Regions from separate parts of the Homo sapiens genome. Here region 2 is linked to region 1. Evidence: fine-mapped expression QTL. A gene starts in region 1. The other region holds a variant in brackets. All regions are shown on one strand. Distances are from middle to middle.

What was found. PIP is the estimated chance that this variant, and not a neighbour inherited with it, causes the effect.
Region 2: its variant is the best candidate, but not a certain one, in a credible set for the expression of NME2 in whole blood (INTERVAL, PIP 0.70).

Annotation. Positions count from the first base shown.
Region 1 is chr17:51,163,576-51,168,575 of GRCh38, forward strand. It overlaps NME2 (NME/NM23 nucleoside diphosphate kinase 2), which reads left to right and starts at 2,836. Exons shown (of 5, transcript NM_002512.4): 1 at 2,836-2,922; 2 at 3,252-3,381; 3 at 4,667-4,768. The coding sequence starts at 3,256. NME1-NME2 (NME1-NME2 readthrough) reads left to right here. Exons shown (of 9, transcript NR_037149.2): 6 at 3,252-3,381; 7 at 4,667-4,768. RefSeq lists silencers at 2,677-3,306, 3,567-3,766 and an enhancer at 2,789-3,397.
Region 2 is chr17:51,248,058-51,253,578 of GRCh38, forward strand. All of the region lies in intron 2 of MBTD1 (mbt domain containing 1), which reads right to left. Among named protein-coding and RNA genes, the nearest start is that of MBTD1, 9.2 kb to the right of the region's middle. The variant G/C (reference allele first, on the strand shown) is at 3,209.

The sequences.
Region 1 (5,000 bases):
GCAGCCTCGACCTCTCTGGGCCCAAGTGATCTCCTATCTTAGCCTCCTGAGTAACTGGGGCTACAGGCACGTGCCACCACGCCCAACTAATTTTTGTATTTTCTGTAGAGATGGGGTTTCATCATGTTTCCCAGGCTGGTCTCCAACTGCTGGGCTCAAGCGATCTGCCTGCCTGGGCCTCCCAAAGTGCTGAGATTATAGGCGTGAGCCACTGCGCCCACCCTGAGGGTTTTTCTTTTTTCTTTTTCCTTTTTTTTTTGAGACAAAGTCTCGCTCTTGTCGCCCAGGCTGGAGTATAATGGTGCGATCTCGGCTAACTGCAACCTCCGCCTCCCGGGTTCAAGCGATTCTCCTGTCTCAGCCTCCTGAGTAGCTGGGATTACAGGTGTGTGCCACCACTCCCGGCTATTTTTTGTATTTTTAGTAGAGACAGGTTTTCACCATGTTGGCCAGGCTGGTCTCGAACTTCTCACCTCAGATGATCCACCTGCCTCAGGCTCCCAAAGTGCTGGGATTACAGGTGTGAGCCACTGCGACTGGCCACCTGAGGGTTTTTCTTATCTTTCCTTTTCATCTGGCTTCGGTAGAGGCAATAGAGGGGAAGAGACTTCTCAGGATGGGGGAGAAGAGGGTAGTTGGGGTGGGCTGCCTTTACAGACAGATGATGGCGAGATGAATTTTTTTTTTTAATTTAGTTTTTTTTTTTTTTTTTTTTTTTGAGACAGAGTCTTGCTCTGTCACCCAGGCGGGAATGCAGTGGTGCAATCTCGGCTCACTGCAAGCTCTGCCTCCCGGGTTCACGCCATTCTCCTGCCTCAGCCTCCTGAGTAGCTGGGACTACAGGTGCCCGCCACCATGCCCAGCTAATTTTTTTGTATTTTTAGTAGACATTGGGTTTCACTGTGTTAGCCAGGATGGTCTCGATCTCCTGACCTCGTGATCTGCCTGCCTTGGCCTCCCAAAGTGCTGGGATTACAGGTGTGAGCCACCGCACCTGGCCCCCTTTTTTTTTTTTTTTAATTTTTGAGATGGAATCTCAATCTGTTGCCCAGGCTGGAGTGCAGTGGCACGATCTCAGCTCACTGCAACCTCTGCTTCCGGGGTTCAAGCGATTCTCCTGCCTCAGCCTCCTGAGTAGCTGGGATTACAGGCATGCGCCACTACGCCCGGCTAATTTTTGTATTTTTCTTGGGGACGGGGTTTCACCACGTTGGTCAGGCTTGTCTCGAACTCCTGACCTCGTGATCCACCCGCCTCGGCCTCTCAAAGTGCTGGGATTACAGGCGTGAGCTACCGCATCCAGCCTGAATTTCTATTAATACTTTTACACAAAGCGTGGCCTGTTTGTTTTGGGGCGTGAGATGAGCATACCAGGACTTGGGGGAATGAACATGTGTGTAGTGAAGCTGGAGGGTTACAGCCTCCCCAGTTAAGGACAGTCTTCCCAGGAAGGAAAGAAGAGGTGAAAGCAGAGGGGTGGTCCTGACTGTACCCTGAGTAGCCATCAGTGACCTGACCAAGGGGAGCAGATAGCTCTCCCCTGGACAGAGAAAAGTCCGTGCAATTTCGAGACCTGTTTTCACAGTTGACATTTGGTAATCCAAATGAGAGTGTGTTTCAGATCGAAGCCAAAAAATAACAGTGCCCCCAGATGAGGGCACATGACAGTCATTGTCAATGTGTGGTGGGCTAATGCTCTGTAACTAGAAGTTTGGAAAGCCGATAAGGTATAACAGAGGCCAGATTGTCATCCATCTGGCCAGTGACAGGTGATCAGCGCAGTGCTAGGGGCACTCGGGTGATGGCATGATTGCTGTGGTCAGCTCAGAGTCCTGAGGGGAAGCAAGCGGGCTCTCACCATCTCAGGGCAGTACCACTGCTGTGCGGCTGTCAGTCAGTGCTGCAGGCGCCGAGAGGAGGGGCTTGTGACCGCCCCAGGGAAGCTGGGCATCACCAAAGGGAGCTTGTTTGCCAGGGACACTGCAAGTAGGAAGTGTCTACAGGTCGATGACAGGCCTAATCTCTATGACAGGGTCTAGACTTTCCTCAGGGTCCAGGGGCGCACCTCAGGGTGAACTGGAAAACTCGACCGCACTTTAGTGCCAGGTGGGCAGGGATCCCCATGTCAGGGTGGGAGTGGGGCGGCTGATTGGGGCTGGAAATGTAGGTGGGGAGGCGGCAGCCAGGGAGCAGGGCATCCTGCGAGAAGAGCATCCCGCTAAGGAGTCTGAACGCCATCCTGTAGGCGGGGGAGTCATCAAGGCAGGGCAGAGGCAGGACCAGATGGCCGTTTGAGGTGCTGAGCAAAGCTCCCGGTTTGCGCGGAGAGGTGAGATCGAGGCCCCTTGGGAGGCCGAGGCTTAACCAGGGCTCAAGCAGAGGGGAGGGAAGGCTGGATTTCAGAGGTAGGGAGGATAAGGACCGTGGGTGCACGACGGGGAGGGAGAGCCAAGTCAAGGTTAATGCCGGTGCTCGGGCGGATGGTGAAAGCAGCAGATGGCCTTGACCGGGGTAGAGAACTCGAGCACAGGAGCAGGTTCTGTGTGTGTGTGTGTGTGTGTGTGTGTGTAGGAGCTTTTGGGGTCACGGGAAGTACTGAGAGGTGAGGAGTGGGATTTGGGACGTGCGTAGTTGAACTCATAGGACGTCCAGGTGGAGAAGGAATCACTTCCTGTCTCTGGATCCGTCTCGATCTCTGCCTGGCGAGGGCGCGCCCCGGCTGGGCGTGGACACTGTTCTCCGGCCGCGTCGGGCCGGGCGGGTGGGGCGTTCCTGCGGGTTGGGCGGCTGGGCCCTCCGGGGTGTGGCCACCCCGCGCTCCGCCCTGCGCCCCTCCTCCGCCGCCGGCTCCCGGGTGTGGTGGTCGCACCAGCTCTCTGCTCTCCCAGCGCAGCGCCGCCGCCCGGCCCCTCCAGCTTCCCGGTAAGGCGGTGGGGGCGCATCCCCTGGCGACTCCTCCCGTTCCCTCTTCCGCTTGCGCTGCCGCAGGTGGGCCCGGTCTGTGGGCGCCCCCCGATTTCCCGCAGGTCCCGCGCGGCGTCGGAGCGGGAGATTCCCTTGCAGCTTGCGCCCCGCGGGCCTTCGGGCTCCGCAGAGGGACGCCGGCCCTGCGCGGGGCGGAAGCGGCCGGGAAGCCACGTGTCCCCGCGGCCGCGCGTGGTGGGGGAGGAGGGACCGGCGGCGCCCACGTGGCCTCCGCGGGCCCCGCCAGAGCCTGCGCCCGGGCCCTGACCGCACCTCTCGCCCCGCAGGACCATGGCCAACCTGGAGCGCACCTTCATCGCCATCAAGCCGGACGGCGTGCAGCGCGGCCTGGTGGGCGAGATCATCAAGCGCTTCGAGCAGAAGGGATTCCGCCTCGTGGCCATGAAGTTCCTCCGGGTAACTCGCCCCCGTCTCCCCTTCCCCGCTGCAGCCGGCTCGCGGGTGTTTTTCCCTCCCGGCGGCGGTTTGTCCGCGTCTGCTTTCCGAGTTCATTTCGCTGCCGCGAAATCCCTTTGCCCTCTGCCCCCGCCCACGGCGGCTTGGGCCCGCCGACCCTTTCCCGGGGTGGTGGGGACAGACGCCCTTGGGAAGGTGAAGCGCTGGTAGCGTGACTCGCCCTCCGGGTTTGGGTTCCTTCCCGCGGGCCGCTACCTGCCCACCCGCCGCAGGGGGGCAGCAGGGAGCGGAAAAACCCCGGGCCCCAGACCCCCTGCGCCTGCCCACTCGGGTCCACCTAGGCACAGAATGGAGGCTTGGAATCTCCTTTGCTTTAGTCTGAAACTCCGAGTTCCAGTGCGGTGCTCCTCCTTTAGCATAGGGTAGTGAGTGTATTTTCCACATTAAATTTGGGGCACAGATCTGAATCCCTACACTTACGGGTAAGAATCTAAGTACTGAAATTCAACCAGGCTCATCGGTGAAGAGAATGTTCTCAGTTATTATCTGAAATATTTAAAAGGGCATTGTGAGTAGCCCAGGGGAGTTTAACATGACCTCTGCCAGGCAGATGACCTGACATATGTACTTCAGTTGCAGCCAAAATTTAATTCCCTAAATCTAGATCCTCAAACCACCTACTTTTTAGGCTTACAAAACCCCTAATGTCATTGACGGTATGAGGGTGTCTTTACGATTAGAACAGTCTTGGCCAGGCGCGGGGCTCACGCCTATAATCCCAGCAATTTGGGAGGCCGAGGTGGGTGGAGCCCAGGAGTTGGAGATCAGCCTGAGCCACATAGCAAGCCCCTGTCTCTACAAATAAATAAATAAATAAATAAAAATTAATTGGGCATGGTTGAGTGCATCTGTAGTTCCAGCTACTTGGGAGGCTGAGGTAGGAAAATCACTTGAGCCCTGGAAGTTGAGGCTGCAGTGAGCCATCATTGTGCCACTGCATTCCAGCCTGGGTGATGATAGTGAGACCCTGTCTCCTAAAACAAACCAAAACAACACACCAAAAAAAGAACAGTCTTTCTGTTAAAATGGCATTAGTTTCATGGTTTGGATGGGATTTAAAAAATATTTATGTGTGTGTATATGTGTGTATATATATATATATTTCCACACACCACTTAGGAACGTGGGCTAGAATATAAAACCGGACTTGCTAATGGGAGGTTCAGAGGATGGGTTGGAGTCTTTCCAGCTTAGCTCCTAACTGGTGCCTCCTCTCCAATGCCAGGCCTCTGAAGAACACCTGAAGCAGCACTACATTGACCTGAAAGACCGACCATTCTTCCCTGGGCTGGTGAAGTACATGAACTCAGGGCCGGTTGTGGCCATGGTGAGTGCTCGTGGGGAATGAGAGAAAATGAGGAAAAAGTGCTCAGTGTTCTTTGTTAGACATCTCCCTCAGCTAATCTAAATTTTATTTTATGAATGGAACCTGCTGAAGTTACTTAACTGAGCAACTAGGAGCTTGGGAGGAGAAAGCAAATCAGACCTTAGAAATGGGAAGGATGTTAGCTGGGTGTGGTGGTGCACGGCTGTAATCTCAGCTACTTGGGAGGCTGAGG
Region 2 (5,521 bases), 85 kb after region 1:
TATCCAATGTTATTTTCCCGTTGTTATTTCTTAAAATTTCATGTGTGCTTTCTCCCTTTCCCCACTTGGTTAAATTAGCTAGTGATTCATCTATTATGTGACTCTTCCCTCAAGGGTCCAAGATTGGTTCATCAACTAGACGTATAGTTCTTCTGTTAACTCATTAACTTCTACTTTTATCTTTATTTCCTTCCTTGTGCTTTTGGCTTACTTTGTTCATTTCTGAATTGGGAATTTATTTTCATTTATGTAAGTGTTTAGGGCTATGAATTTTCCTCTGCTCACTGCTTTAAATGTATTCCACAGATTCTGGTATGTAGTATTATGTAGTACTTTTCTTATCATCATTTTCCAGAAACTTTGCAATTTGTGTTTCCCTTTTACCCATTAAACTTTTAAAAATTAAGGCATACTGTTGAACACTTATCAAAATATAGGACTTTTCTGTCACTCTAGAAAGCTCCTTCCTGTCCTTTCCCACTCAATCTCTCCCCAGTCCTGAGTTCTATTAGCTTTGGCTAAATTTTGTATATATTTAAGATTTTATATAAATGGCATAAAATCGTATGCATATTTTTGTGTCTAATTTCTTCCAGTCAGCATAGTGTTTCTGAGATTCATTCATGTTACATGTATAAATGGTTTCTTTTTATTGCTGAGTAATACTCGTCAATGTATCAGCTTACCCTTTCTTCATCCAGATTTTACTATGAATAAAGCTGCCACGAAAATTCTTGTACAAGGTTTTCTGTGAATACATAATACAAGGTTTCTTAACTTCAAGACGGAAGTGCAATGTCCTTTTGCTTTTTGAATTTGTTTTTGTTTTCTTGTATGGGACCTACTAATGTTTTTCTAATAGATTGACAATTTTTTGTGAATATTCTGTGTTTAAAAAGAACATACTCTCTGGCCCCGCATGGTGGCTCACACCTATAATCCCAGCACTATGGGAGGCCAAGGCAGGAAGACTGCTTGAGCCCAAGAGTTTGAGACTAGCCTGGGCAACATGGCGAGACTTCGTCTCTACAATAAGCAAAAAAAAAAAAAAAATTAGCTGGGCATGGTGGTGTGCACCTGTGGTCTCAGCTACTTGGGAGGCTGAGGTGGGAGGATCACCTGAGGCAGGGAGGTCAAGGCTGCAGTGAGCCGTGATCATGCCACTGTACTGCAGCCTGGGAGACAGAGTTGGGGGTGGGGGGAAGCAGTATATTCTTGATTATTAGGGATATACTTGAAGATTCACATTATATTATTTAGATCTTTTATATCCTTTTTTACCCACTACATCTTGTGCTAAGTGTCAAAGTCCCCTAATTTTAGTTTTTTATTTCTTCTTATACTTCATATAGATTTTGCTTTATACAGATTGTTGCTGTGTTATGTGGTACATATTTAACTGTGAATTCTTTGTTGTGAATCATGGTTTTTAGCATTATAAACTGTTCTCTTTTGTCTGATTTAATGCTTTTTTTGGTTTGAATTCTACTTTGCTATCAGCATTTTCAGTCTTGTATTCTTGGGGTTTCTATTTGCCTGGTACATATTTGTCCTGGCCTTTATGTTTGCTCTCAATTCTCCACATATTTTATCATTAGGGTATGCATTATGTACTGTATACTTTTTTTTCTGTTCCATCATGGTTTTCTTTGTCCCTTTAAAAATTTCTCTCAGTATTTTGGAAAGTCTTCGTCACGCTTACCTTTATATTAATAGCTTTTACAGTACACTGTATTTTTTTTCTTACCTAATCTTTTCTATTTGGTCTTTCAGTTTTAGATGGTAGCCTCTGACTCCCTCATATTACTTCAATTACAGTAATTATTCTTATTCTAGTTCTGAAAAAGAACAGTTCTAGACAGGGTCTCATTCTGTTGCCCAGGCTGGAGTGCAGTTAGGCAAACACAGCTCTCTGCAGCCTTGACCTCCTGGGCTCAAATGATCCTCCTACTTCAGCCTCCTGAGTAGTTGGGACTACAGGCATGAGCCACCATGCCTGGCTAATTAAACACTTTTTTTTTTTTTTTTGTAGAGACTGGGTCTCACTATGTTGCCCAGGCTGGTCTAGAAGTCCTGGGCTCAAGTAATCCACCCACCTAAGCCTCCCAAAGTGCTGGGATTACAGGTGTGAGCCACCACACATGGCCTTAGTTTTTCCTTTTATTTTCCATCCCATTATATTTTAGTTGCATTCTTTCTGCTTTGTCAGAATGTATAATGTTTATGTACTATTCTCTAGGTCCCTACTATTGGTTTTAATCTTAGTTCAAAAAGATATCTGAAATACTTATTGTCACAGTCTTTTTGTAGGAAATGTCCCAAATATCTTTTAGATGAAAGTCATCCTTTTCGAGTGTCCTCAGGAGGGGTAAACGAGTACAGTATTCCCTGAGTTCCTGCATGTTCAAACTGTTGTTCTGCAGCCCTAATACCTGGACAACAGTTAGCTGGATATAAAATCCTTGGCTAGCAGTCACTTTCCTCATGCTGCTCCACTGTCTTGCTTTGTTATGTTGCTTTTGAGAAATCTGACACTGGTCTAATTCTCTTGCCTCTATGTCACGTCTTTGCCTGGAGACCCTGAGAATTCTTTGCATCTTTACAGTCATACAGCTTTACTAGGAAATATCTTTGAGTGTGCCTTCTGGTATGAACTTCTGTGGTATAGATTCAGATCTCTTTTCACTTCCAGAAAGTTTTCTTGGATTATAGTTTTAAATATTTTCTCTTCTTGAAGGACACCAATTATATACAGTAGACTTTGGATCCATCTCCCATTTCAACTTGGTCAATTTTCAAAACAAAAATCTCATCTCAATTATCCTGTTTTCCTGCTTTTCTTCAAGACTTTTTATTAAATTTGAATTTGAAATGTGGGAATGTTAAAACTTCATTATTGGTTATGATTTTATCTTCTATTTTTCTGTTTAATCTACTTTGTGTTCATTTCTTAATGCTTTTTGTTCTTTGTATTTGTTTCAGAATATTTCTTAATTTTATTTTTCAAATCTCCAAACATTGGTTTGAGGATGTTTAATTTCACTTGGAGCATTGTGTCAATTTTTTCCTGCTTTTTTTGATGGGGGTAGATTTTCATCAGTTGAAATGCTGATTCACATTTCCTGTTTGTTTTTTCTTACAGTTCTGTATGGATGTGGCCTGCTCTTTTCTATTTCTGTTCATTTCATAGGCAGAGCTCCTACTTCAA[G/C]AACACCCTCTTCTCTAAGTTCAGTTTTTTTCTTTTCCTGAAGAATTTTTTCTTCTTTCTTCTTCTTCACTGCCATGTTTCCAAGTCTTCACTGACATGTCTCCAAGTCTTCATGTTTCCCTTATGAGGCAATGCTTATAATTTAAAGCTACCAATTCTGGTACTGCTTACCTTTAAGCTCTTCTCCATACATAGAGCTGTGAACTATCAAACTCCAAACCTATGATCAATGTTTTGGAGCTTTTTTCAGATTTTCTCTTTCTGAGAGTGGATCTTTGTACCTTGTCTAAAGCTTTCACACTCCCATACCTCTTTCAGTAAATTTGTCAAGCCTTCCCTCTCTCACTCTTAACACCTAGAGGAATGATCATAAGGAGCAGTTGGAATTTGGTTTATTTCTCTACCTATAAGAATCTACAAATCTCTATTTATAGGCAGAGAAATAAACTAAATTTGTGAGTTGAACTCTTAAACACATTTCGTCCTATAGGAGTTTATTTGTAAATTCTACAATAACCTAATATTGGACTTGCTCTGTCATTCAAGCTGCAGTGCAGTGGCATGATCTTGGCTTATTGTAACCTCTGCCTCCCAGGTTCAAGCGATTCTCATGCCTCAGTCTCCCGAGAAGCTGGGATTACAGTGTGTGCCACAACACCTGGGTAATTTTTGTATTTTTGGTAGAGACAGGGTTTCGCCATGTTGGCCAGGCTGATCTCGAACTCCTGGCCTCAAGTGATTGGCCCACTTCGGCCTCCCAAAGTGTTGGGATTACAGGCATGAGCCACTGCACCCAACCATGTTGGACTATTTTTGTTACTGATCTGATTTGGTTATTATTATAATATTTGTAATATGCTTAGTATGTGTCAGGCATATTCAGCACTTAAATCTGTAGCAGCGCATTTAAACCTTATGAGTGTCACTCTCATTTTACAGGAGGAAGCAGTGGCCCAAATAGGCTAAGCAACTTGCCCAAGATCATATAACCACCATGAACACTAATAATATGAATCATGGGACTATCTTAAAACGTTTTAAATTTTAACCTTCTTTCTCCCCCCTCCCCAATACTGGTTCTGTCAGCTAGCCTCTGTAAGCATACAAAACAAGCATCAAATAAATATGTTTCAGGTAACGTGCCTTCATGAACATTTTGCTCTTCAAAATAAAACCGAGGCCAGGTGCAGTGGCTCACACCTGTAATCCTAGCACTTTGGGAGACCAAGGGTGGGTGGATTACTTGAGGAGTAATCCACCAGGAGTTCCAGACCAGCCTGGCCAATATGGTAAAACCCCATCTCTACTAAAAATACAAAAATCAGCCATGTGTGGTGGTGGCACCTGTAGTCCAGCTACCAGGGAGGCTGAGGCAGAAGAATCACTTGAACCCGGGAGGCGAAGGTTGCAGAGAGCCAAGATTGAGCTACTGCACTCCAGTCTGGGCGACAGAGTGAGACTCTGTCTCAAAAAAAAACAAAACAACAAAACAAAACCCCAAAAAACTGCAAATCATATTAGATGACTAAGGTCTTGAATGTAGGGAGATGGAATGATTGTAGGTAGGTAAACCTTGCTTTATATTTGGGTGTATGTTCTAACTCCCTGTCCACTATAAAGTCACTAATGTCTAAAATTCATATACTAAATAAATAATATAAGCCTAAGCTTTAGAATTAGAGAGATAGATACTAGATGAGAAAGCTAAAAGAATGAAAGCAGTTGTCTCATCAGAGCTGAATTGGGACAAGGACCATTTTTTTTGGAATACTTTTAGCATTGTTTAATTATTGTACTATCAAGTGCATGTATTACTTTGATAAAAATAAAAGCTAATTTATATGAAGTATACAGTACATTAAAAAATTAAGTTGGTATATATTGAGAGATTGATGATATCTGGTATCAGTAAATACATGTGGGAAAAACAGTGCTCATATACACTTGGTAGGAAGGTAACCTTACACTATCTTTCCGGAAGGCAATTTGACATTACATATGAAAACTTAAAATGGCTATGCCTTTTGACTAGGTAATTCCATTTTTAGGAATCTGTCCTTCAGAAATACTCATACATAATACATACAAGGACACAAGAACCTATGTAGAAGGATGTTTGCTAATGTAATAATAATGAAAAACTGGAGACAAACTTACAATCAGCAGGGGAATCATGAGCAACAGGTAAAATACTGAGTGGAAAAAATAAATCACAATATATAGTATAATAAAATATATCACAATATGACTCACTTTTTATTCAAAGAGACAATATACACTGGCATATACACAGATCAATATATGTATGTTTGT